Homo sapiens: one gene and its partners. The protein of the gene in region 1 interacts with the protein of each later gene in a biochemical or structural test. Each region holds a gene or a part of one and is shown in the gene's direction. Other genes may lie near its edges.

Region 1 (3,500 bases):
GGCCTCCCAAAGTGCTGGGATTACAGGCATGAGCCACCACGCCCGGCCTGTATTTTTAGTAGAGACGGAGTTTCACCATGTTGGCAAGGCTGGTCTCGAACTCCTGACCTCAAGCAATCTGCCCACCTCCGCCTCCCAAAGTGCTGAGATTACAGGTGTGCGCCACCGTGGCTGGCCTATATTCATTTTTCAAAAATTTTCTAGAGTTTTACATTTTCATTGCTTTGTACTTTTACTTTGTCTTATTTTACTTTTTCACCATGTGTTTTTCAAAGCTGAAGGTATATTTGATGTGATTATTATAAATCACTTGTCAGGAAGACTTGACTTAATGAATACAGATACAGTTCATTTTTAAAATCATGGTTTAATAATTTTTAGAATTTACCTTTATAATATAGAAAAATACCAAATGTTCTTTATCTGCACTAGAAAATTAAATGATTATTTCATTAATAAGTAAAATTGAAGGGAACTTTTGAAATCACTGAGCAGTTAACAAATTCTCTATAAATACTGTGATGTTAGGAAGACAACAAGGCTAAATATGACATTTAAAGATTTAAGGAAACTTTATGTCTGGCTGATCCTCACCTTAAACTCTAATGAAGATAGAATTTATAGTCTTCCCTTCAAAACTGATTCCATATGCTGACTTTGTTTTGGTGACATTACCATGCTTTCAATTACCCAGACACAAACTTTGGTTTTATCTCTATGCGTGTAACAATATTGGCTGATTTTTGCCAGCCATTTTTATCTTTGAACTACTCACTAGCCTTTAATTGGGTTTTTTGCTTGATTTTTCTCTCTACTTAGTATGTCTTCCTAAATCTTAGAATTATGCTTCAAACACATCCTTCACTTTTCGGAAACCAGTGATAACTCTCTGTTATCTTCAGAGTATAGTTCAGAATTCATAGCCTAATAACAGTCTGCTCAAACCTGTTTTTCTGGGGCCAGCACTATTTCTTTCTTTTTTTTTAATCAGTGCCAGCACTATTTCTTTATAGGAGCTGTCCACTCTAACCAAACCAATCTCTGATTCTTATTTACTCTTTGTATTTTTGTACCTTCGTATCATTCCTTTTTCTTTCTTTCTTTCTTTTTTTTTTTTTGAGACAGAGTCTCGCTCTGTTGCCCAGGCTGGAGTGCAATGGTGCGATCTCGGCTCCCCGTAACCTCTGCCTCCCGGGTTCAAGCGATTCTCCTACCTCAGCCTCCCTAGTAGCTGGGACTACAGGCATGCGCCACCATGCCTGGCTAATTTTGTATTTTTAGTAGAGACGGGGTTTCTCCGTGTTGGTCAGGCCAGTCTTAAACTCCTCACTTCAGGTGATCTACACATCTCAGCCTGCCAAAGTGCTGGGATTACAGGTGTGAGCCACTGTGCCTGGCCTCTTTCTTTCTTCTTTTTTTTTTTCTTTGAGGCGTCTCACTCTGTCACCCAGGCTGGAGTGCAGTGGCACCATCTTGGCTCACTGCAACCTCCGTCTCCTTGGTTCAAGTGATTCTCCTGTGTCAGTCTTCCGAGTAGCTAGGATTACAGGTGCATGCCACCACGCCTGGCTAATTTTGTATTTTTAGTAGAGATGGGGTTTCACCATGTTGGCCAGGCTGGTCTTGAACTCCCGACCTCAGGTGATCCACATGCGTCGGCTTCCCAAAGTGTTGGGATTACAGGCGTGAGCCACTGTGCCCGTCCAGTTTGCCTAGTCTTTAAAATTTTTTTTTTCTCCTAAATTACCAAGTAGCAAATGAAGTAAAATTTGTTGAATTTTCGCTTTTGGTCCTTTGGTGCAGTCTTCCAAATGTTTTTCCTGTTCCCTATGTTGCTTGCTTTTCTTTCTTTCTTTCTTTCTTTCTTTCTTTCTTTCTTTCTTTCTTTCTTTCTTTCTTTCTTTCTTTCTTTGTTTCTTTCTTTCCTTCCTTCCTTCCTTCCTTCCTTCCTTCCTTCCTTCCTTCCTTCCTTCTTTCTTTCTTTTCTTTCTTTTCCCTTCCTTCCTTCCTTCCTTCCGTCCATCCATCCGTCTGTCCGTCCGTCTGTCTCTCTCTCTCTTTCTTTCTTTCTTCTTTCTTTTTTGACAGGATCTCGCTCTGTTGCTCAGGCTGGAGTACAGTGGCCTGATCACAGCTCCTCATTGTAACTTGAACCTCCCAAAGGCCAGGATTACAGGTGTGCATCAATGTCTGGCTAATTTTTTTTTTTTTTTTTTTTTGTAGAGATAGGGTCTCACTGTGTTGTTCAGACTGGTTTTGAATTCCTGGCCTCAAACGATCCTCCCACCTTGGCTTCTCAACGTGCTGGGATTATAGGGGTGAGCCACTGTGCCTGGTCTGTTGCTTTCCTTTAAACCCATACCCCTTATTATTTTAGTATTCCCTTGGTTTTTAATGTTGTGTGGACTTGAATCATAGAATTATAGAGCATTATTGCTGGAATGTTGGAATCCAACCTTGTGTTTTACAGATAAGGAAACTGAAATACAAATAGACTAGATGCACCAAAATTCAAACATTTAGTGATGGGGGCAGAACAAAGACTCAACCCTTGATCTTCTGACGCAAGTTCTGTGTGTTTATGAAACCATACTACTTCTCATCTCTTGTAATTTTGCCTTATTTGCCTCACATTATTTTGCATTTTGTGTATTTATGCCTTCTCATAGATTGAAAACTTCAGGGCAGGGGAACCTTCATATTTACATTGTAAATTTTTTTTTTTTTGAGACAGAGTTTCGCAGTTTTTGCCCTGGCTGGAGTGCAGCAGCATGATCTCGGCTCACTGCAACCTCCGCCTCTCGGGTTCAAGCAATTCTCTTGCCTCAGCCTCCTGAGGAGCTGGGATCACAGGCACCTGCCACCACACCTGGCTAATTTTGTATTTTTAGTAGAGATGGGTTTCACCATGTTGGCCAGGCTGGTCTCAAACTCCTGACCTCAGGTGATCCGCTCACCTTGGCTTCCCAAAGTTCTGGAATTACAGGCATGAGCCACCATGCCCAGCCTTACATTGTAAATTATTTAAACAATGATATAAAGTCTATATACAGTTTCTTTCCCCTATACTTGTTAGGTGTATTAACACCATTAACAAAAATAATATTGTCATGTTTACCATTGAGTTTTTTTTTTCTTGAGACGGAGTCCTGCTCTGTCACTCAGGATGGAGTGCAGTGGGGCAATCTCGGATCACTGTACCCTCTGCATCCCAGGTTCAAGGGATTCTCCTGCCTCAGCCTCCTAAGTAGCTGGAATTACAGGTGCCTGCCACCATGCCTGGCTAATTTTTGTATTTTTAGCAGAGACAGGGTTTCACCATGTTGGCCAGGCTGATCTCCAACTCCTAACTTCAGTTAATCAGCCTGCTTTGGCCTCCCAAAGTGCTGGGATTACAGGGATGAGCCACCGCACCTGGCCAGTGTTTACCATTGAATTCTATCATCTGCTAAAAAATGAATCTCTTACAGGTTTTACTGCTGCAATTTAGTTTGTCTTTT
Region 2 (3,500 bases), on another chromosome or scaffold:
GTGTTCTGTTTGAGGAAAGATCTAGAACTAGGCACAGAGGACACAGTGGTGATACAGTCTAGTAGTAGGGAGAGACATTAATCAAGTAATTATTTATTAATGTGTGTGTGTGTGTGTGTGTGTGTGTGTGTGTGTGTGTGTGTGTGATTGCAAGCCATGATAAGGACTGTAGTGAAAACTTTAACATGCCGTGGGCACATATAACAAGAGTTGTTTTGAGCATATGTTCTCAGGATCTCCTGAGGGCTGTGTCATGGAAAAAAAATTGCTTTTACGAGACAAAACTTTTATAAGACAAAAATATCTAGTTGATTGAGAGAGACGTAAATCATGTCAGAAAGCTAAACTGGCATTGCTGCAGAAAGATGAGATAGAGTTGAACCAGCAGGTAGAGTTTGGTGATGGTGAGAATTGGGAGACTCTGGAATGGGGCCATTCTTATGGTGAAGCATTTGGTCAACAATTGAGGGCAAGAAGCCTGAGGATGGGGTGGAAACTCCAGGCTTAATTCCAAAAGGATTTCTTCTGAATCTTCCTGTGGGAGGGGAAAAAAAATGGTTTATTTGTTTGTCTCAAAAGTTAAGAGCATGTATATGGAAAGAGCTTATGACTCATATAATCCTCATTTTTACTTACTGGGGGAGGGACTCTGGGTCCTGGGTCTGTAGTTTAGATGTGGCTCCTCAGAATGGGGTATATGAGAGAGGAGGGTGTATCCCTAGATGTTATTAGCCTAAGGGGTGCCTGGAGTTTGGAAGGTAGGTGAGTCTCACGGAAATAAGAACAAGTAGGCCCAGCCCTCAGCTTAGCTGCATGGTCTGTGGGAAGTGGGATTCTTTCTAACATTGGATAGATAGTGTATATAAATAGACAAGACTCTCCATTTACATTGTATACAAGTAAAGGATGAGTGGGGTGTGGAGGGGGAGTGTTACTGATTTTGCGTGTTTGAAAGGAAACAGGGTTGGGGAAGCCACAAGTCTTGGGCTTCCTGAAGGAGCCAGGCTCTGGGACCAGCTTGAATGTCGGGAGGATGGCAGCGTAGAAGACGGTGAGGTGGGCTGTGAGGAGAGTTTGGTGGCACAGCCTGTGGGAGGAGCCTGGGTGGCTGGAGAGAGATGAATGGAGGAAATGGGGACGAGCTGCCTAAGAAACGTGGTGATAGTTGGCGAGGGAGGAGACAGGAAGACCTTTGACAGAGGAGATAGCTGAGACCTCAGGTTCATCCACAGCAGGTAAATTCCAGGGCCACACGGGACAGGCGACGTGGGGAGTGTCTGTGGTCACAACTGGGGGCCCCAGCACTTAGAGCCTGTGACTCAGTATGTACACGTAGCACCAAATGCTTTTTGGTTCTGTCTTGGGCATCTCCGCACGGGCACTTCCGCCAGTGGTTTCTTCCATTGCCTTTGGGATGAGCAGGCCTCCTGAAAGCAGGCCTGATATTCTCTGGTCTTCTGACAAAGAATGGGAAATTTCTCACACCGTCTTGTTCCAGGAACCACCTGGGGATGGGATTTGAAGGGCTTGGGTTGCCGAATTGCTCCTAGAACCACAGGCTTAGAGGAGTTTTCTATGAACAGCGGTCCTGGCAGGGACAGACTGAGGATCGGTAGGGCTGAATGAAGACAATCCCACCTCCTTCAAGAGCCACCTCAACTTATGTTTTTTTCCCACAAAGCCCCCCCTCCGATTTTGCCAGCCTTTACTGATCACATCATCCACTTTCTCACAGACCTTACAATTTAGCATTGGCTTATATATTGCCTTATATTGAATAATGTTTTATGGTCTTGTTTTTCCTACCACTTCCTTATGTGTAGAGACTGTGATCCATATTTCCTCTTGATCCCTGTAAAGATGCTGAGCACACAGTAGGGGTTCAGAAATTACTTGGTAAGAGACATGGATCTAAGTATGTCTGTGACTGGACCTTTCCTACTAGATTCAATCCACAATTAGTACAGGGTGCCCAGTATATGCTGGGCACGGTGGGATACAAAGCAGTACAGGTGCTGACTCTGGTTCTCAGCCAGGGCACCGCTGGCCTCCAGGGGGTGTTCGGAAATGCTGAGGAGGGAGGATTAACTGTCTTGGGAGCACCGGGCACGGTGGCTCACGCCTGTAATCCCAGCACTTTGGGAGGCCGAGGCGGGCGGATCACGAGGTCAGGAGATCGAGACCATCCTGGCTAACACGGTGAAACCCCGTCTCTACTAAAAATACAAAAAAAAATTAGCCGGGCGCGGTGGTGGGCGCCTGTAGTCCCAGCTACTTGGGAGGCTGAGGCAGGAGAATGGCATGAACCCGGGAGGCGGAGCTTGTAGTGAGCCTAGACCACGCCACTGCACTCCAGCCTGGGCGACAGAGCGAGACTCTGTCCAAAAAAAAAAAAAAACTGCCTTGGGAGCACTAACGGCATTTAGCACATGGGGATTGGGGATGTTAACCATCTGGCAGAGTCTGGGACAGTGCATCGAAGAACTGTTTTTCCACCCGTATTGCCACTGGTACCTCTCATGAACTTGTTATGGACATGGGAGAGACCCGGGGAGGGACTGGACAGGTTTCTTCCATGAAGTAGGAAGTAGTTCCTAAGTCCCCTGTGTACTTCTTTCCAGGTAGAGAGAGGAATGTGGGCTCTAAATTACCCTTGTGCATGGCACATATCTAGCAGCTTTTGTCTGCTAGCATACCTCTGGAGGTAAAATAGGTAGGCTCCCAGCCAGACTGTAAGGAAGATTTTCATGTTCTCTTTTCACCACCCACCCACTCTTTCTTTCAAGGCACATTTTTAAGAAAGTGGCTGAAGCTTGCAATACTTAGTCTTTAGTTCTAAGTGACTCAGGAAAGAGTCTTCAAGAAAACAGTTGGACAGAGTGCCCCAAAGCCTAAGCAGCGTGAGGCAAAGATAGGCAGGTGCATGTGGCGTCTTAGAGAGGGGCCAGCACATCGTCTCTTCTCTGGGGTCTTTTCATCCTACACTTGTCTTTTTGAAGACAGAGGTGTGGTGAATGAATGTCATTACTTACATCTGGGGGAGTGACCAGAGACAGTAGAAGACACCTTGCCCTAGTGTATCCTTTCAGGGTGGACCAGTGGCTGGGAAGCAGCACAGCTGAGCGGGATGAGCTGGAGCTGTGCAGAGCTGCCTTCCACAGCTCGCTGTTTCCCAGTCCCAGTCAAGAGAGCAGAACTTGGTAGGCTCCTGGCCTTGGGTAGCTAAGGTTTGGAGGAGGTGGAGAGAGTCCGCCTAACCTTAACAAGGTCATTCCTCACAGTGGAAACTACCTGAGCCCCACGTGTCGAAGCAGGGTAGGGGGAACAGGCAGGATGTGGATCAGAAGTTGGTTTGGGCTGGGCGCAGTGGCTCATGCCTGTAATCCCAGCACTTTGGGAGGCTGAGGCAGGCAGATTACTTGAGGTCAGGAGTTCGAGACCAGCCTGGCCAACATAGTGAAACCCTGTCTCTACTAAAAATACAAAAAATTAGCCAGGCA
Region 3 (4,069 bases), about 88 Mb from region 1:
CCATAATCCCAACACTGGGAGGACTGCTTGAGTCCGGGAATTTGAGACTAGCCAGAGCAACATAGCAAGACCTTGTCTCTACTAAAAAAAAAAAAAAAAAAAAAAAAAAAAAAAGCTGAGTGTGGTGGTGCATGCCTGTAGTCCCAGAGACAGTAGGCTTGAGCCTGGAAGATCAAGGCTGCAATGAGCTTGATCATCCCACTGCACTCCAGCCTGGACGACAGAGCAAGACCCTGTCTCAAAAAATAAATACAGATAAAAATAGAAAACTTGCACACACTGGCCTGTACACGCCTCCTGCTTCCTGGGCTCGGGCTTCCTGTGGAGCGTAGCTGGACCATTCTCAGCCACAGTCTCTCCAGGACCCTGAGGGCCTCTTCCCTGGGTCTTCCAGGCACTCTTATTACACGGATTTCATATATCTGGAGATCTGGGCTGACTGGAAAGCTGGGTGGATCAAATAGGCTCTTAAGGCCACCGTGGTACCCCACTCCCTCTTTCAGCCCTCCTCTATGCTCTCAGAAAGGGGCATCGCAAATCTTAAGTCCTATAAAGACAATAAAACACAGCAAGATGATAGCGATTGATGGGGGTGGGAGCTTGACGGACAAATACTATAGGAGAGGGAAGGGAAAATTGTCCCAGGTAGAGGGAACAGAATATGCAAAGGCCCAATATAGAGAAAACCAGCCATAGCTGAAGAGAGAGGAGGAGTAGGGGTGGGGAGCAAAGATGGGAGGGCTTTAGACAGGGAATAGCCCCGCCTGGTTTCTGCTTTTGTGGCCCCCTTCTCCCCACACTTGCTCCCCACTGGCCACCACCGGCACTCGGTGAAGACAGGTGGTGAGGCCTAGACACACCGAGAGCCGGGCCCCGCGGGGGCTTCCAAGTGTCGGATCAGCAAGATCATCCTTTCGAGGTCGCCGTCCTTGCAATTAGTAGATGGGACCCACTGCCCCAGGGCGGTAGGGGCGCACCCGCTACGAGCGGAGCGCGCTTTCACCGGGAGGTAGGACGGGACGCAGCGCTCGGACTTAAGCGGGGAAAGGGAGCAGAGGGCTGGACGGGTGAAACTGAGGCCGGGGTGAGGAGTGAGGGTGCGGTGTCCGGGGATGAGGGGCCTGGAGCCGGGAGGGACCAGAGGAGACAGCGAGCTGTCGACCCCAGCCCCGCCGCACCTCTTGGGGCCGCGCGGGGGCGCTGCTCTCCGATGCGTGGAACGATACAGCCCGGGGCGGGGCTTCGGCGGGCGGGCGCGCGCGCGCCTGCGTAGTGTGTCACGGGGCGGGACAACCGCGGCGCGGCTCGGCGCTCCCGGCCTGGCGTTGTGGCGCCGCAGCCCTTGCCACCTTCCCTGCACCTGCCCTGCCCGGCCTCATGTACCGCGCGCTGTACGCGTTCCGCTCGGCGGAGCCCAACGCGCTGGCGTTCGCCGCGGGCGAGACCTTCCTGGTGCTAGAGCGAAGCAGCGCGCACTGGTGGCTGGCCGCGCGGGCGCGCAGTGGTGAGACGGGCTACGTGCCGCCAGCCTACCTGCGCCGCCTGCAGGTGAGTGCGCCCCTTCCCGCCCGGCCTCCGCGCCCCTGGGGCAGGACCCCTTCACAGCCCCGCGGAACCGACCCAGGGACCCCACCCTCTCCGGGACCCGAGGCCAGGACCTCTATCAGACAGGGAGTTTGAGAACCTGACCCTGAGACCCCCGGACCCACGGGGACTGAGACCCCAAGTGTCAGCATCACCCACAAAAGACCAGGCCCTTGACAGACCAACTCCCGATCGACCAAAAGCCTAACTCTGGGACTGAGACTCCTCAGGACCCCAGACCCTTCAGTATCGAGTCCGCCATCTGAATGGCGACCCTGAGCCCCACCGAATCCTGGCCAATTATTCAAATCCCTGAGACCCCAGATCCTTAATATGCCCCTTCTCTGGATTCCTAGGACCCCACAACCAACCTCCCTCCCTCCCTCCCTCCCTCCCTCCCTCCCTCCCTTCCTTCTTCCCCCAACCCCGCGCCTTGCCCCCCGTTGGAGCCACCACTGAGACCTGGACCACCTTGGACACCACCTGTTTCCCTAGCCATTCTCCAGGTCCTCAACCCCCCAACTTGGACCCTAGAGCCATAGACACCTCCATCCCCTATGTAACACCCAAGCTTTGGTACTTCAGTGTCTTTCACTAGCCTGTGTTCAGCCACCCTCTAAGCTCTTCTTAAGTCTCTACCAACCTTATTTGAACCAAGGACCCATGCCCCTGCTGACACTGTCTGCTCCACTCCCCAACCCTGACTTCTCAAACTTTCTTGCTTTGAAAATGGGTTCCATCCCTACTTGTTCCCAGCCTGGAGTGGGGACTGCTCACATTGTGATGAAGTGAGTTCTTATAGCTTCTCCTGGTCTGATCGTGGCCCCATTTCCTTCCAGTGGAAGCTGCAGTCCCAGTTCCTGTTTCCCTAAGAGTAGCCCTGCTGCGGGGGTTGGGGTGCGTATCTCCAGCTGGTCTATTCTGACCACAGGGGGAAGAAGGGCCCAGAGCTGCCGGGCCTGTGCCAGACACCCCCGCCCCGTCCTAGTCCTTATCCTTTAGGAAACATCCTGTCCCAGCCCAGTTCAGGACAGAAATAACGGGATAAATTTGGAAGTGTCATCTGGTCTTACCAGGAAGGATGGGCCCTGGGGGCCTAGGGGCTTCCTCATAGACCCTTGGCGTGATCCCATCTAGGAGTGCCAGGGGTGGGAGTGGGGGCCGTGGACACCATGGCTGCTGTGTGTCAGACCCAACCTTTTTGGGAATGGGGTCTCATTGAAGGCCTCTGAGGAAAAGTCCTGTCTCTTCCCCTACTGGGCATAGGTCAAGGGCCTGTGAGTCCCCTGCCGCCAGCCAGGACCAGTGGGGCAAGGTGTTTGGGGAGGGCAGAGAGGCTACCATCTTCTCTGTCACTGTCTGTTTCTTTCTGCGTGTCTCTTTCTGTCTGGATTGCTGCGACTCTGTGCCTCTCTGCCTGTGTCGTTCCGACTCCACATGTGTGTGTTTTTGTTTCTTCCTCCGGCTCCCCCCACACTCTGGCTTTGGCTCTGTTTCTTTCTGCGTTGTTTCCCTCTGTCTGCCTCTCCGTTCCTCTCTGAGCTCCTCTCTTTCCCCATTCCTTTCTTTCTCTCTCTCTCTGTGTGTGTGTGTGTGTGTGTGTGTGTGTGTGTGTGTGTGTCTTCATGTCTTTCTATCCCCCTGTCTCCTCTCCCTGCACTCTGGCACACCTCATACCACCTGGAGGGCTTTGCTGACCTCTGTGCCCACCTGTCTGTGCCCATCAGGGAAGCTTCTCAAACCCATGGTGGAATGAGTTCATCTCAGCTCCGGGACTCCTATGTAGCCTGATGGACTACGTGTGCCAGGGCCAGGGGAGGGCTGGGGGTAGCTGGTTTGATAGCTGCTACCCTACACTCCCCATGTCAGATAGGCAGAGTAGACTGGATCCCTGGAATGTTGGGGATGGCAGTACAGAGCCTGGAACAGGGGCTAGGCCCCTCTCTCATGTTTATCCTTTGCCACAAACACAGAACTGCTTCCCAGGGTGGGTTTGGAAGCTTACTGAGACATCTTGTGGGGATGAGGGCCAGCAGCAGGGTTGGGGAGGGCAAGTCCCTTTGACCCATTCTCAGCTCCCAGGGCTTACAGAGGGCCCTTACAAGGACAGGGCTGTTCTGGGGTATGACCTTGGTTTTGTGAAAGATCAGCAAGATGCAGAGTGATGTATTAAGGATTCCAGATACTGGAGACTTCCTGTTTGGCATCTCAACCTGGGCTCTGAGCCAAGACCAGGGATAGACGAGGTATGCGCTCCTGGCTGCAAGCTGGGAGCCCCTGGGCTATGTTTTTGCTTTAGACCTCTGATTTTCAGAAACATCTTAGCCAAGAGCCTTGCTGTGGGGTAAAATCCTGATCAGGACCTAATATGTAATGTGGCAGCATGGGGGTCACCCTGTGCCTCAGCTCCCTGAGTGATACAGTTTGAGAACCCCATTCCATATTCTGGTTCAACTTTTTGTGCTATGTCTAGCATTCCAGGCTT
Region 4 (3,500 bases), on another chromosome or scaffold:
GGCTCAGAGAGTCACACAGCCCACATTTGTCATGGTGGAGCAAAATTTTGCAAGTGGTAGCACAAAAATTTGAACCCAGATGTAACTGACTTTGAAAGTGAAGACTTTAATGAAAGATTTTTGGGGCTATCTTCTGCTAAATGCTATTTTCTGCTAAGTGATAACTTATAAGAGGCTACAGCTGATATCTCAAGTTTTGAAATTCCTTTTTTTTGAGGAGGTTATGAGCATCAATGACATATAGATTATGTGACCATCATAAAAATGAAGTAATGAACACAATAATGTGACTTTTAAAAAATGTGACCTCTAGGACACCTAGGAATCATGAAAGGTTCTAGTTCTTTGGCATTTGAAGGTAGAAATGTTTATCATATGATTTTGTTTAGACTTCCCTAATACCACGTTATGGGCTGATAGACAGCCTGGCAAATATGACATATAATTTGAAGCAGCTACAGAGATGATATAGTGCTTAATTGAACCATATTTTTGATCACGATCTGTAGATGCCCAGATCGCTGATCTTCACGTATATCTCCATTATTAAGGCAATTCATTTTAAGTGACGAGAAAGTTCTGACTTTAGTTAAACTGGATGATTTGGTGAACATATTTTAATTGGGGGGGACAATGCCTTTATTGATTTATAGCATTATAGAACTAATGATACTTCATGCACTTGACTCGTTGGTTGGTTGCATTATTCATCCTCTACCTCAGGGGTTCCCAACCCCTGGACCGTGGACCAGTTATCTTATTTGGAAGGATGCCACAAGTTAGAAGCTATTGTGGCAGTCTAAGTAGGTAGTAAGGGTCTTGACTGTGGTATTGTACATCTTCTAGGCTCAAAACAGCTTTGAACTCCCAGGCCCAGGCGATCAGATCAGATCTAGATGATTTCTTTTAATGGCTCATTTCCCCTGGAAGCCCATAAAACAATTTCAAGATTTTCTGTTTTTATTACTCTGCCTGTTCTTTTATCTTCTGCAGAAATTCTTGATTTCAGGCTTCCCAGCCAGTTTTAATGATCCTGGAAGTACAGAGAGGTAGTATTAACAATTAACTGAGGCTGGGCATGGTGGCTCACACCTGTAATCCCAGCACTTTGGGAGGCTGAGGCAGGCAGATCACCTGAGGTCAGGAGTTTGAGATCAGCCTGGCCAACATGGTGAAACCCTGTCTCTACTAAAAATACAAAAATTAGCTGGGTGTGGTGGCGGGTTCCTGTAATCCCAGCTATTTGGGAGGCTGAGGCAGGAGAATTGCTTGAACCTGGGAGGTAGAGATTGCAGTGAGCTGAGATTACGGCACTGCATTCCAGCCTGGGTGACAAAATGAGACTCCATCTCAAAAACAAACAAACCTCAACAAACAAAAAAACCACACAAAAAAACCAAAACAAAAAAACCCAATTAACTGTATGTCCATAAATACCATATCACACCCAGGCCCATTTTATACTGTGTGGCTTTTCAAAGGCACCACATCTTTAATAACCTATTACTTATGATGTCAAAAAAGATGTATATTTTGCCCAAAAAGCTACAACTTATATTGTTTTGTAACCTTGAAGAAACATCTGGGATTTAGTTTAGCCCCTAAAATATTATTTTAAAAAATTATTTTTAATTTTAGGGGGTTCATAGTGGGTATATATTTTTATGGGGTACATGAGATGTTTTGATATAGGCACACAATGTGTAATAATCATATCATGGAAGATGGGGTAACCATCCCCTCATGATGGGATATCCATCCCCTCAAGCATTTACCCTTTGTTTTATAAACAATCCAATTATACTCTTTTAATTATTTTTCAGTGTACAATTAAATTATTATTGACTATAGTCACCCTATTGTGCTATCAAATACTAGGCCTTATTCATTTATTCTAACTACTTTTTGGACCCATTAACTATCCCCACCAGCCTCCCACTATGCCCCCACCACCCTTCCCAGCCTCTGGTAACCATCCTTCTACTCTCTGTGTCCATGAGTTTAATTGTTTTGATTTTTAGATCACACAAATAAGTGAGAACATGTGATGTTTGTCTTTCCGTGCCTGGCTTATTTCACTTAACATAATGACCTCTAGCTCCAACCATGTTGTTGCAAATGACTAAATCTCATTATTTTTTATGACTGAATAGTATTCCATTGGGTATAAGTACCACATTTTCTTTATCCATTCATCCATTGATGGACACTTAGGTTGCTTTCAGATCTTGGCTATTGTGAACAGTGCTGCAACAAATATGGGAGTGCAGATACCTCTTCAGTAGACTGATTTCCTTTCATTTGGGTATATGTCCAACAGTGGGATGGCTAGATCATATGGTAGCTCTATTTTTAGTTTTTTTGAGGAACTTCCAAACTTTTCTTCATAGTAGTTGCCTAATTTACATTCCTGCCAACAATGTGTGAGGGTTCCCATTTCTCCACATTGTTGCCGGCATTTGTTATTGCCTTTCTTTTGGATATAAGCCATTTTAACTGGGGTGAGATGATCTCTCACTGTAGTTTTGATTTGCATTTCTCTGATGATCAGTGATGTTGAGCACTTTTTCCTACGCTTGTTTGCCATTTGTTGCCGTCTTTTGAGAAATGCCTGTTCAAATCTTTTGCCCATTTTTAAATCGGATTATTACATTTTTTCCTATAGAGTTGTTTGGGCTCCTTATATATTCTGGTAATTAATCCCTTTTTGCAAATATTTTCTCCCTTGCTGTGGGTTGTCTCTTCACTTTGTTGATTGTTTTCTTTGCTGTGTAGAAGCTTCTAAAATATTCTTTTAACAGTAAGTATAACATTCACCCAACATACTCTCATCAGTGAATTTAATAGTAATCAGCAAAGTCTGATATGAACATCCCTTAATCTCAGAACATTTTAGGCAGTAATGGAGTCTAGCCATTAGGCTGTCTTCATAATCTGTGAAATGAATCTGTCTTAACCGTGAGGCATGCCAGTACAAGACTTTCTTGGTATTTTAGTAATTAAGCCCTTTGGGATGGAGTCCAAGGTGGGCCTTTCTTGTATCTATCTGTATGAGTATTTTGATGTTCAAGAAAGGCCCTAGAGTACACAAACGATATAGACCTGTATAAAAGTTCCTGGTTATTAGGTTGTTTAATTGAAGTTAAAAAGTTTAAACCCAAACCTAATTTTTCTAACTCTTGCATTTCACTTTGGCACTGAACTCTCTTAAATAGTCAATAGGACTTTCAAAAATAAATTGAAATCCCTGAAACATTTAAAGCTCTATTTATAAATTAGTTAATTTTCTTTTTTTTTAAATTAAATATGTCAAGTGACTAGCTTAGCAAGATGATATTCAGAGCAGGCAAAACCTTCCCAGATACTTAATTTTGGAAGTTGCGCTATACTTTTCTTTACATTAATGATTAGTTTCCATTTCCATGTTCTCATAATCATACATGTATTTTCTCTATTTGAAAATAAAATGATTTCTTTCACCCAGGTTTTCTCTCTCTCTT
Region 5 (3,500 bases), on another chromosome or scaffold:
AAAAAATTTAAATGTTGCAGTAAAAGTGTGTCATATCAATACTTAAATTAAGAAAAATAAAACCCATCTTCCTGTAGGTTGGAGGCTGCCGTGTCTGATGGTGGATACTTCTGCTATTCAAAAGGGAACTCTCCCATGACTCCCAAGCACCACTGATGCAAAATTTTCATTTCATGCTACACACTATATAGTTTTATTATGTCATTTAATCTCTGTGTTATAAATTAACACACTACAGGCCTCTCAGTTGCTCACGCAGTCACTGCCACAGTTCTGCCAGGCTTCTCCAACCCACCCGCACGGCCCAGAAGGGAGCTCGGAAAGCAGCTGGAACTATCAGGGTGATTAAAGGAGAAACCAGGGGACAGAGAGGAAGAGGCACTCCACCCAAAACATTTAAAGAGACAGCTTGCTTTTTTTAAAATTGCCAATTAGCCAGGTGCAAAACAAAAACCCATCATTTAGAAGGTGATACCTCTATTTTCACTTTTCTATTTGCAAAGAACTGGAAGTTCAACAAATAAATGCTCAAATCAAAACTAATCAAAAATTAAAACTGTTTTAGGAACTGCATAGACTTCTCCGAGCCCCAGGCCGATCCTGCTGTGTTTAACCAGCATGTACTGACTTGCTGTTTTGCATGAGGGGACTGACAAATTTGTTTATGCTGCACATTCATTATGCAGAAGCTGCAGATTTTGCTTTACATCATGTTTCCTAAAAACATTTTTAGACTCTGCTGTCATTCTGCAAGCTGATGTGGGTTGGGGGTGCGTACAGAGTGCTTGATGGTTTTTGGTGAAGCTCAATTTTGATCCCTACCCATAGTGTTTGCTTTCTGGTGAAAATAACTTGATGATGCCCAATCACCAATGCAGGGCCACCCTGATGATGGGGGGAGAGGAAGGGCCTGTAGTTAAGAGTACACAGTATGCTGGGTGCCTGACAGACACTCTTCTTCCCGCCCTTCAAGGGTGAGGAAATCAAGGCTCAGCGAGGTTAAGTTACTGGCCAAGGTCAACCATTTTACAAAGAACCGCTGCTCTTTTTTTCCATTCAGTCCATTCTTTCAATTAAAACCCAGTTTCTTTCTTTAAGGGGAAAAATAAAGTGAGGCGAGTGAAGACCATTTATGACTGCCAGGCAGACAACGATGACGAGCTCACATTCATCGAGGGAGAAGTGATTATCGTCACAGGGGAAGAGGACCAGGAGTGGTGGGTACGTACGAATATCCATCCACTTCATCCGTACATTCATACAGCATGCCTGGGCAGGCACCACATTGGAGCCTACAGACAGTGCAGTAAAAGAGGGCTCTTGAGCACAAGGACCCTGTCAGCTGCATCACTCACCCAACAGCCATTGCATTTGGTGTCTTTTCTATGTCACACACTATTACATGCTAGAAAAACAGCCGTGGAGCTGGCCGGGCACAGTGGCTCACGCCTGTAATCCCAGCACTTTGGGAGGCTGAGGCGGATGGATCTCGAGGTCGGGAGTTCGAGACCAGCCTGGCCAGCATGGTGAAACCCCGTGTCTACTAAAAATACAAAAAATTAACTGGGCATGGTGGCACGCACCTGTAGTCCCAGCTACTCGGGAGGCCAAGGCAGGAGAATCGCTTGAACCCGGGAGGCACAGGTTGCAGTGAGATGAGATCACACCACTACACTCCAGCCTGGGCAACAGAGCGAGACTCCATCTGAAAAAAAAGAAAAACAGCCATGGGGCTTTGAAGACAGGTCAAGAGAATTAACATTTGTATGTACTTTACCCATGGTATCATGTAACCTTGTGAGTTGTAGGCATTTTCTGATTTTTCATATAAATACTAAAGCGGAAGAAAGTTGAGCATGTTGCCTGTGGTCCCTCAGCCAGTAAGCAGGCTAAGTCAAGATTCCAGATCGGCCCTGACCCCAGAGCCTATGTGCTTTGCTCACCATTCCACACTGTCCCCAGGCTGGGAATCAGAATGCCCAAGTTCCTGCTCAGGCTGAGCAGTTGACAAGTCCTCAGACTCAATTCTTAATCCAGTCTGCAGTTCTTTCTTTGTCAAATAGGCCAAGACACCTTCTCCACGTAATTTTAGGAAAAGATTAAATGAAAATATCTATGAAAACTCCTTTTACATTAAAACCTGCAGCTCAGGCATCAGGAGGGAAAGACATCAGCATCCTCATAGGCCCTGCTAGGTACCCAGGCTGTGAGTGACCTGCGAGGGCAGTCCACACATCTATTGGTTTTCACGTTGCCAGGGAGTAAGTCTCCCGATGGGAACTGCCAGGCCAAGGTACAGTGAATAAGCCACCTCTTCTGCTCTCCTTGTTGATCATTTCCTGACATCAGGGTGAAAATTCCCCTTCCTTGGCAGCCTGAGCCCCGTCCTGCCAAGAGGGACTCAGTTCTGTCTGCCAGGAAGGGACCTGAGGCTCGCAGTTGAGCCAGCAGTACCTAAGAATACCCAGAAATACATATGTATATACATGTGTGCACACACACATAGGCATGGGCACACATTCACCTTTGACTTTTCTTCCTTCAGGCCTAGACAGTGACCTCAGATTCTTAATCACAGCTGTAGGGATTTTGTTTGGACTCAACTGGGGCAATTTTGCCCTCCAGGGACATTTACAATATCTGGAAATATTGATTGTCAGGACCTAGGAAGGGGGTTGCTACCAACAACTAGTAGATGGAAGTTTAGTGGCCAGGGATGCCACTAAACATCCTCCAGTACTCAGGGAGCCCCCACAAGCAAGGATGCCAGTAGCACCATGGTTGAGAAACTGGACTGAAGGGATCAGCCTGGGGAGGCCCAGGGGTACCTCCAGCCTCTGTCAGCAGAGTGGGGCCAGCCCCTGGCATGAAGCCTGTCAGAGAGTCCACTTCATCTCATGACGAGGAGGTGGGCTCTGAAGCCCCCCCACGTGAATCAGTTACTAGCTCTATGGGCCTTGGATAAAGCATGTCCCTTCTGTAAGCCTCACTTTCCTCTGAAAAATAGGACATGATTAATCGTTTCTCACAAGGATGTTGAGGAACTCACTTTGTAATCTGTTAATATTATTATAATCAAGCAGTGATCATGTTCTTTGCTAAGCAACTGATGACTACAGCAGAGATACCTGCGGGGAATGGGAAGCTGTCATTGGTGTCCCTAGCATCATTCCTAGGGGACATTGTGTGTGCCACCATTACGTGCCTCGCCAGATGTAAAGATGGTGCCACACACACATGCTAACTGTGATGTGAAATTCACAAAGACCTCACACATGCATGATGCCAACTAAGACCACACGCGGTGGGTGGGCAAGCCTTCAGGAGAGCTGGGCAGGCCTGGTTGACTCTGTTCCACTCTTAAAACCACCTTCCTCTCTATCGATTTGGCATTGGAAGCCAATATGCACGATTTTGTTTTTTCTATTGAAGGCCCATTACATGATTCTCTTTAGTGCAATCAATACTAATCTAATTGAGGTAATTAGAAAATTTTTACA
Region 6 (3,500 bases), on another chromosome or scaffold:
TATAGAAATTATTGATGAGATACTTTACATTTTTTTCATAACAAGTTTTTAAGATGCGGTGTATACTTTTTACTTATAGCATATCCGTTAGCACCAGCCACATTTCAAGTGTGCAGTGGCCACTGTGTGGGCCACAGGTCTAGAATATAAGACATGAAGATGGAGAGTGAGAAATGCCTTTGGAAAGGTTGGAAGTTCCTGTCCTTCTGCTGCCAATTACCAAATCTCCTGAGAGTGCTATTAAGGAGTGACTCAAAGCACTACACAAAGAGAATTATAAATATCTTAATATTATATCTGAAATCCAAATGCATAATTCTTTACATTTGGTTGGTACTTTAGAGAGGAGAGAATGGGCACAGTCACCCACACCACCCATTTGAGCCTCATAATCACCTGTGATGTGGCTTCCTCTAGGTGGGAAACCGAGGCTTAGAACGGTTAAGTGACTATCCCAGGGTGGCAAGATCATAAGTGGAAGGGTGTGAATTCATACTGTCTCCAGCGGACAAGAATAAAAAGACCCAGGCTGGGTGTGGTGGCTCATGCCTGTAATCCCAGCACTTTGGGAGGCCACTGTAGGTGGATCTCCTGAGCCCAGGAGTTCATTACCAGCATGGGCAACATGGTGAGACCCCATTTTTATTAAATATACAGAAAATTAGCCCAGCTTCTCGGGAGGCTGAGGTGGGAGGATCACTTGAGTCTGGGGGATGGAGGTTGTAGTGAGTTGAGATCGTGCCACTGCACTCTAGCTTGGGTGACAGAGCAACACTCTGTCTCAGAAAGAATAAAAAGATTTGGCCATGAATTCGTCAGCTAGTTTTCCTTACATAATTTTTGGACAAGGAGATCTGACATTCATAGGTTTTTCTCTTAGAAGTGGGAGAGCTTCAAGGTCACGTGGTCCGTCCAGCCCCTGCTATCTCACCAGACACTGTCCACCCTGTATGTTGGATCAGTACTCCAGTGAGAAGACAGCAGGCACTTTCACCCATGCAGCCCATTCAGTCTTCATAACCACCTGTGATGGAGGCAAGGCAAGTATTTCAGCCCCCTCTGATGAGTGGGAAACTGAGATGTGCCCCCTCTCTGCTCCCCACCGAGGACCTCTGCATGCAGGCATGAATCCCAGGAGCCTAGCTGATATTGGAGAGACGGGGCGGGGGGAACCAGCTGCAGGGTCTTGGAGGAAGCTGCTGTGTACACCTGCAAGGCTGCAGGTTACATCTATCTGTCAAGCAGTGAAGGAAGGAAGTTGTTTCTAAGGGATTGGAAAAATTCATTAATTAGTAGAATGAGAAACTGAGGTGAAGCAGGAGGTGGCAGGGTCCCAGACAGCATGTTGGACTAGTGGCCTGTGTCACTGTGTTTTTTGCAGGCGGGTGGCATGGGGTGTATGCTGACTTCTTATTCCAGGAGTTGGTGCCAGGAGGCCAGGTTTTCTTAACATCCTTGTTTTACAGATGTCAAACTTGAGGGCCAGAGGGGTAGGAGAGGAAGAGACTTTTTGTACCTTTTTTGGGAAAGAACAAGAGGGAAGCTGGCAGATGAATTTGAAGTGCATTGACCAGGGAGCTGAGAGAGGGCGGTCTGCAGCCAGCCCACACCTGGGAGGAGGCGGCAGGCTTTTCTGGGGACAGAGTGGCCAAGTCGAAGCAAGCTTAACCATCTCAACATGACACCACTCTTTCCCATTGGAACCTGAGAACTTGTTCAGTATTCTGACACTTAGCAAGGGACCTGGGTTTTCTTGGTCAGGTGTGCGTTTCTGGGTGACAGGCCTGCATCAGGTGTATTTTCGGGATGTAGTAAGTTGTGGAATATGGGTTTAGGGGCATCCTCTGGCAAGCACTGCTTCTATCCCAGCTCTGGGAATGTGCCCCATGCAGTGTCCTAGATGGCCCATCTGTGGTCTGCTTCCAAGGGTCTTTCTTTTAGTTAGTTAGTTTTGAGACAGAGTCTCACTCCGTCACCCAGGCTGGAGTGCAGTGATGCAATCTCGGCTCACTGCAACCTCCACCTCCCAAATTCAAGCAATTCTCATGCGTTAGCCTCCTGAGTAGCTGGGATTACAGGCGTGCACCACCACACCCAGCTAATTTTTGTATTTTTAGTAGACGAGGAATTTCACCATGTTGGCCAGTCTGGTCTCAACTCCCCACCTCAGGTGATACTCCCGCCTCAGCCTCCCAAAGTCCCGGGATTGTAGGTATGAGCCAACATGCCCTGGCACAAGGGTCTATCTTTGACCAATGGAACTGCAAATCAAGCCTCTTTTGTTACCAGAGTTACCTTGGATTTACCCTTATCTACTTGGTTTGGATAAATTGAGTTTGCATCAGATGGAGTCAGGCTTGATCAATCCCTTATTTACTTCCTCCCACCCTGTTCTCTAATATCCAAAAACCTTGAGGCACTATTACATGCTAGCTACATTTCCTTGAGTAAAGTACTTAACCTCTTTGAGCCTCAGTTTCTCCATTGCATAAAAGGAATAATAAAACTTATCCCCCATAAGTTTATAGTGAGGAATGAATTAATTCCTCACTATAGTTCTAAATTAATTCTACTTAGGGCATCCTTGGTACATAGTGGGTGTTCAGTATTCATTTCATTTTCTCTTTTCTGATTCCTTTCGTAAAAGTAGAAAAATGAAAGAGAAATGTTGACTTCTCTTTTGATTTGAAATCATTAAAACATTTTAGTAAGCCTTGGGAGGGAGCTAGTGGTGTGGCATGTGTATCCCGCTGGCCAAGCACATGTGAACGAAGCCAAGAATCCAGGGGCTTTTCTGCCAGCCAGCACTGACTCACTTGCGAGGGGCCCTGCCTGGCTCGGGGGAGGCAGGGCTGAAGTACCACATTAGGGCATGTTCCGGGGAAGTAGATTCTCTGAATAACTTGGATGGCTCCCTGGAGCATTTAGGACAGAAGCCACCTGGAAAATAGAGATGGTCACCCCCACGTAGCCTTGACAGTGCCCAGAAAGTCTTGTCACTTGGTAAATGTTAACAGCTATGATCCGTTCTTTAAGACCCTGGGGAGTTTTAAGTTTTACCCCACCAGACCTGAGAAGGGTAAAGGGCTGCAGATTCTGTTCTTTTAACTGGGGCCAGTGTGAGCCATCTTTGACTCAGTGCTTGCAATAGACCTTGATTCTGCAGTGGGACCTCCCAGGCCCCCTTGCCCCCCGCAACTTCTGGACTCATATCCGTCAGACATCACTTGTCACCTTCCAGCATCAGGGAGAACTGGATCCCTCCTGGCTCCACACTCTTAGGCTCTTTGTAAGTAGCTGGTGAGGGTTTTCTTCTCTCTGCAAGGGAGGCTGGTAGAACTATGGATGTGATTCGTACAATTTTAGAGACAAAAAGAAAGTACCCAGGAGGTCATTTATTTCAGCTGCTTCATTGCATAGGTCGGGGAGTTGAGCATGGAGTCCAGCAGCTACTAACTAGTTATCTCTGTACCTGGCTTCCATTTACTGGTCCTTAGCTT
Region 7 (3,500 bases), on another chromosome or scaffold:
CTTCACAGTTGTTTCTTGCAATTTCTCTTTAGTATCTCCACAAGAGGGTAGCTGGGAAAAGAACTAAACTTAAAACTCATCAGTCTACTTCATAATTTTATAGCATTAGTGAAATGCTAGTGATAACTCCTTTTTAACTATGATGAAAGTAAGGTGTGGCTAAAGTTTATGTCAGATTTCTCTATTATTACAAATAATTGTAAACTCACCGGATATATTATACATGTTCAGATTTGTATACTTCTACTAGTTTTGATTACTGGAAAGACTCCAGGAATAAACAAACATCGCAAGTCCCCTTTTTCCTGTCTCAGATGGGAGTGAAGATACCAGAGAGATTGAACAGAATGCTGGACATGGTTTTAGATACTGTCAGTGTTGACATCTGAACAGACTATTGGTTTCCTTTAAATGTGCTGAAAACACATTTGTTAGCTTTCAGTTGTTAGCCCTGTTTGCTTACAATCTATTTGCAGAAAAAAGATACTACATATTTTAACAAATGTATAGATATTTCTTTGCTGTTCAGACTTGTAGAATGAGTTTTCAAGTAAAAATTGTTCAAGCAGAAGACCAAAGTGCTGTCTTTGTATTATCCATTGAAATTCCCATTGAGAATCCTAGTAAAATAAAATTTTCTTCTGACTTACTGTTTCAGTCCCCAGAAGAAATTAGATTGTCCATGTAGTACATTTGATTTATGTATTTTGAGTGTACTACATTGTCCCACGTAGTATATTTTATTTATGTATTTTGAGTGAGTGAATGAACAAACTAAGGTTTTGGTAACTGTAAGCTTTGAAATTTTCTTAGCTGTGAGCAAGATTAGAAGCTCAGCCTTAAGAAGTTGGATTCTGAATTTATTTTCACAGATTCTTAAAGATTGCTCACTTTCCCTGGATATTGCTTTCTGCTTATTATTCTTTAAAACTTAATTGGAAGCAAGCAGCCAAATCAAATCTAACGAGGCTAAGTAAGCCTATATTTCTTCAATAGCCAGTGAGAAAATAAGGTTCAAGATACTAATTCATTTCAGTGATTTTAAGGAATTAAATGATATTTAGACATTTGTTTCCTGATTTAAAAAATGACTGAGTGATTTTTAAGCCATCTGAAATTCTGAGGCAGGCAGTCACATTTGATAGACACGTTTTTAGCATAGTTGAAAGTTTCTCTCTTTGTGAATCAAATTGTCATACTGAATATAATGTAACTACTTTTTTATGTCTCAGGGTCATTATGAAAAATGATTTTAATACTGAGCTTATGGAAATGCCCTAAAACTTTTTGTGTTTAGAACATTAAAAATGCCTGGCAATGTGTGCTTTTTGGGTTCCTTTCAGTCTAATTTTGTTGGCAGCTGCTTCTTAATACAGTCATTATGCTTGCTAATCCATGATTGTGTTTTACCACCATTAATTTACTGTTGACTTTAAAATCCAAAGCACATTTATATCTGATGTATTTCCGCAGATTGCCTTCCTTTATTATAACATTTATTACCATATTAACCTTATCCATTTTCTTCTGTTTTTCCACAAGATTGAGGTTCTTCAGGATTTATCTATTATCTAAATATTCCCTACTGTCTGTTAGACACTAAAAATTGACTGTCTGGCCAAATAGGTGATTGAGTGAATGAAATAAAATGGAATGGAGTGGAATGAAATTAAATGAAAAGTCATATCATATATGAGATAGACAAGTTTTTTATAAGGGTCTATAAAATTTAAAGATTTCAGAAAGAGTATATGGTGTATTCCCTCTGTAATAGATACATATCTGTTGTCACTTCTTATAGTTCTTTTGTTGTTGTTTTGGTAGGCATGGGTTTATTGTTGTTGTTGTTGTTGTTGTTGTTTTGTCTGTTTTTTCTTTTTCACTGCCTGGATCTTGGTTGTACTTTGAATGGGTGATAAGATTTTACTGCCTTAAAACTTGCTTTAACTTACTCAAAGGTATTTCTTCTAGTCTCCCTTTCCTGGTGATGATGAAGAGGAAGTTTTTGACAGTATTGTAAATGATGAAGTAAGGTATCCAAGGTTCTTATCTACAGAAGCCATTTCTATAATGAGAAGGGTAAGAATTAAAATAAGGATAAGAATTTTTTAAAGACTACTTTAATTTTTTATACTAAAGAAAATTTCCCAGTAGAACTTTAAAAGCTGTTTTTCAGTTCATAAATGTTGCATGGCTTAGACAAAAAAAGACAAAATATATCTAAGTTTTTTAAAGTAATAATCCTTATCAGTGAATTTTATTCTATTGGTTTTATTTTAACTTTTTTATTTTACATTATGCTAGCTGTTAAGAAGAAATCCTGAACGGCGCCTTGGGGCTAGCGAGAAAGATGCAGAGGATGTAAAAAAGCACCCATTTTTCCGGGTAAGTGTGACTATTTAAAATTTTTTATGAAACTAGAGCGATTAGATTTAACAAACTAAACTAGTCATTTTTTATTTTATGATCCAGCTAATTGATTGGAGCGCTCTGATGGACAAAAAAGTAAAGCCACCATTTATACCTACCATAAGAGGACGAGAAGATGTTAGTAATTTTGATGATGAATTTACCTCAGAAGCACCTATTCTGACTCCACCTCGAGAACCAAGGATACTTTCGGAAGAGGAGCAGGAAATGTTCAGAGATTTTGACTACATTGCTGATTGGTGTTAAGTTGCTAGACACTGCGAAACCAAGCTGACTCACAAGAAGACCTCTTAAAAATAGCAACCCTTCATTTGCTCTCTGTGCCACCAATAGCTTCTGAGTTTTTTGTTGTTGTTGTTTTTATTGAAACACGTGAAGATTTGTTTAAAAGTACCATTCTAATACTTCTTCAAAAGTGGCTCCTCATTGTACTTCAGCGTAAATATGAGCACTGGAAACAGTTTCATGGAGTTTAAGTTGAGTGAACATCGGCCATGAAAATCCATCACGAATACTTTTGGATCAATAGTCTATTTTTAAAAAGAAAGAAAAAAACCACTTTTTTATAGTCCCTAGCTTTGCCATATGCCCGCCTTAAGTGGAAGGAAAGTTAATCACTTAACTATGTTTTATAAAAAGAAAAAAGGGCTTGGAATGCTATTACTGTTCACACAAAGTATGATTCTGTTTGAATAAGGCAAATGCTCCTTTTTTTAAAAAAAAAGACATTACTGTAATATCAAAAACCGTGGCAGTTTGTATACAACTCGGGGCTTGATTTTTTTTAAAAAAACAGAATGAATTGATGTCTTATTTTATAAATGTTCTATATTTATTAGGAGAAAACTTTATATTGCCTTTTTTATCAATCATGTAACAGGCTTATAGCTTTCCAACAGAGCTGCTTGCCAAACAATTTTTTTTGTTTATTAAACAGTGCTGAAACAAACAGGATCAGCATTTACTTAAGATGTTAAGAATGAGGACTTTTAATCAGCCGAACCAAGATATTGTTACCTGTATGCATTCCCAAAGTCTAGATGCTCAGTATGTTCAGTCATATCTTTCAG

Evidence for each region.
Region 2: the proteins of NCK1 (region 1) and MINK1 form a complex in vitro, tested with the Homo sapiens proteins (one study listed by BioGRID).
Region 3: the proteins of NCK1 (region 1) and NCKIPSD form a complex in vitro, tested with the Homo sapiens proteins (one study listed by BioGRID).
Region 4: the proteins of NCK1 (region 1) and ARHGAP32 form a complex in vitro, tested with the Homo sapiens proteins (one study listed by BioGRID).
Region 5: the proteins of NCK1 (region 1) and ASAP1 form a complex in vitro, tested with the Homo sapiens proteins (one study listed by IntAct).
Region 6: the proteins of NCK1 (region 1) and FGFR1 interact in a test that uses a peptide from one of them, tested with the Homo sapiens proteins (one study listed by BioGRID).
Region 7: the proteins of NCK1 (region 1) and PKN2 form a complex in vitro, tested with the Homo sapiens proteins (one study listed by BioGRID).

Annotation. Positions count from the first base shown.
Region 1 is NC_000003.12:136,865,208-136,868,707, forward strand, and holds part of NCK1 (SH2/SH3 adapter protein NCK1), read left to right. Parts: intron 1-3,500. UniProt on the Homo sapiens protein: Adapter protein which associates with tyrosine-phosphorylated growth factor receptors, such as KDR and PDGFRB, or their cellular substrates. Maintains low levels of EIF2S1 phosphorylation by promoting its dephosphorylation by PP1.
Region 2 is NC_000017.11:4,839,840-4,843,339, forward strand, and holds part of MINK1 (misshapen-like kinase 1), read left to right. Parts: intron 1-3,500. UniProt on the Homo sapiens protein: Serine/threonine kinase which acts as a negative regulator of Ras-related Rap2-mediated signal transduction to control neuronal structure and AMPA receptor trafficking.
Region 3 is NC_000003.12:48,683,116-48,687,184, reverse strand, and holds the start of NCKIPSD (NCK-interacting protein with SH3 domain), read left to right. Parts: upstream 1-1,269; 5' UTR 1,270-1,377; coding exon 1,378-1,548; intron 1,549-4,069. UniProt on the Homo sapiens protein: Has an important role in stress fiber formation induced by active diaphanous protein homolog 1 (DRF1). Induces microspike formation, in vivo. In vitro, stimulates N-WASP-induced ARP2/3 complex activation in the absence of CDC42.
Region 4 is NC_000011.10:129,185,826-129,189,325, reverse strand, and holds part of ARHGAP32 (rho GTPase-activating protein 32), read left to right. Parts: intron 1-3,500. UniProt on the Homo sapiens protein: GTPase-activating protein (GAP) promoting GTP hydrolysis on RHOA, CDC42 and RAC1 small GTPases. May be involved in the differentiation of neuronal cells during the formation of neurite extensions.
Region 5 is NC_000008.11:130,055,675-130,059,174, reverse strand, and holds part of ASAP1 (arf-GAP with SH3 domain, ANK repeat and PH domain-containing protein 1), read left to right. Parts: intron 1-1,098; coding exon 1,099-1,221; intron 1,222-3,500. UniProt on the Homo sapiens protein: Possesses phosphatidylinositol 4,5-bisphosphate-dependent GTPase-activating protein activity for ARF1 (ADP ribosylation factor 1) and ARF5 and a lesser activity towards ARF6.
Region 6 is NC_000008.11:38,458,636-38,462,135, reverse strand, and holds part of FGFR1 (fibroblast growth factor receptor 1 isoform 1 precursor), read left to right. Parts: intron 1-880; exon of another isoform or gene 881-1,029; coding exon of another isoform or gene 1,030-1,040; intron 1,041-3,500. UniProt on the Homo sapiens protein: Tyrosine-protein kinase that acts as a cell-surface receptor for fibroblast growth factors and plays an essential role in the regulation of embryonic development, cell proliferation, differentiation and migration.
Region 7 is NC_000001.11:88,830,773-88,834,272, forward strand, and holds part of PKN2 (serine/threonine-protein kinase N2), read left to right. Parts: intron 1-1,971; coding exon 1,972-2,079; intron 2,080-2,304; coding exon 2,305-2,385; intron 2,386-2,472; coding exon 2,473-2,676; 3' UTR 2,677-3,500. UniProt on the Homo sapiens protein: PKC-related serine/threonine-protein kinase and Rho/Rac effector protein that participates in specific signal transduction responses in the cell.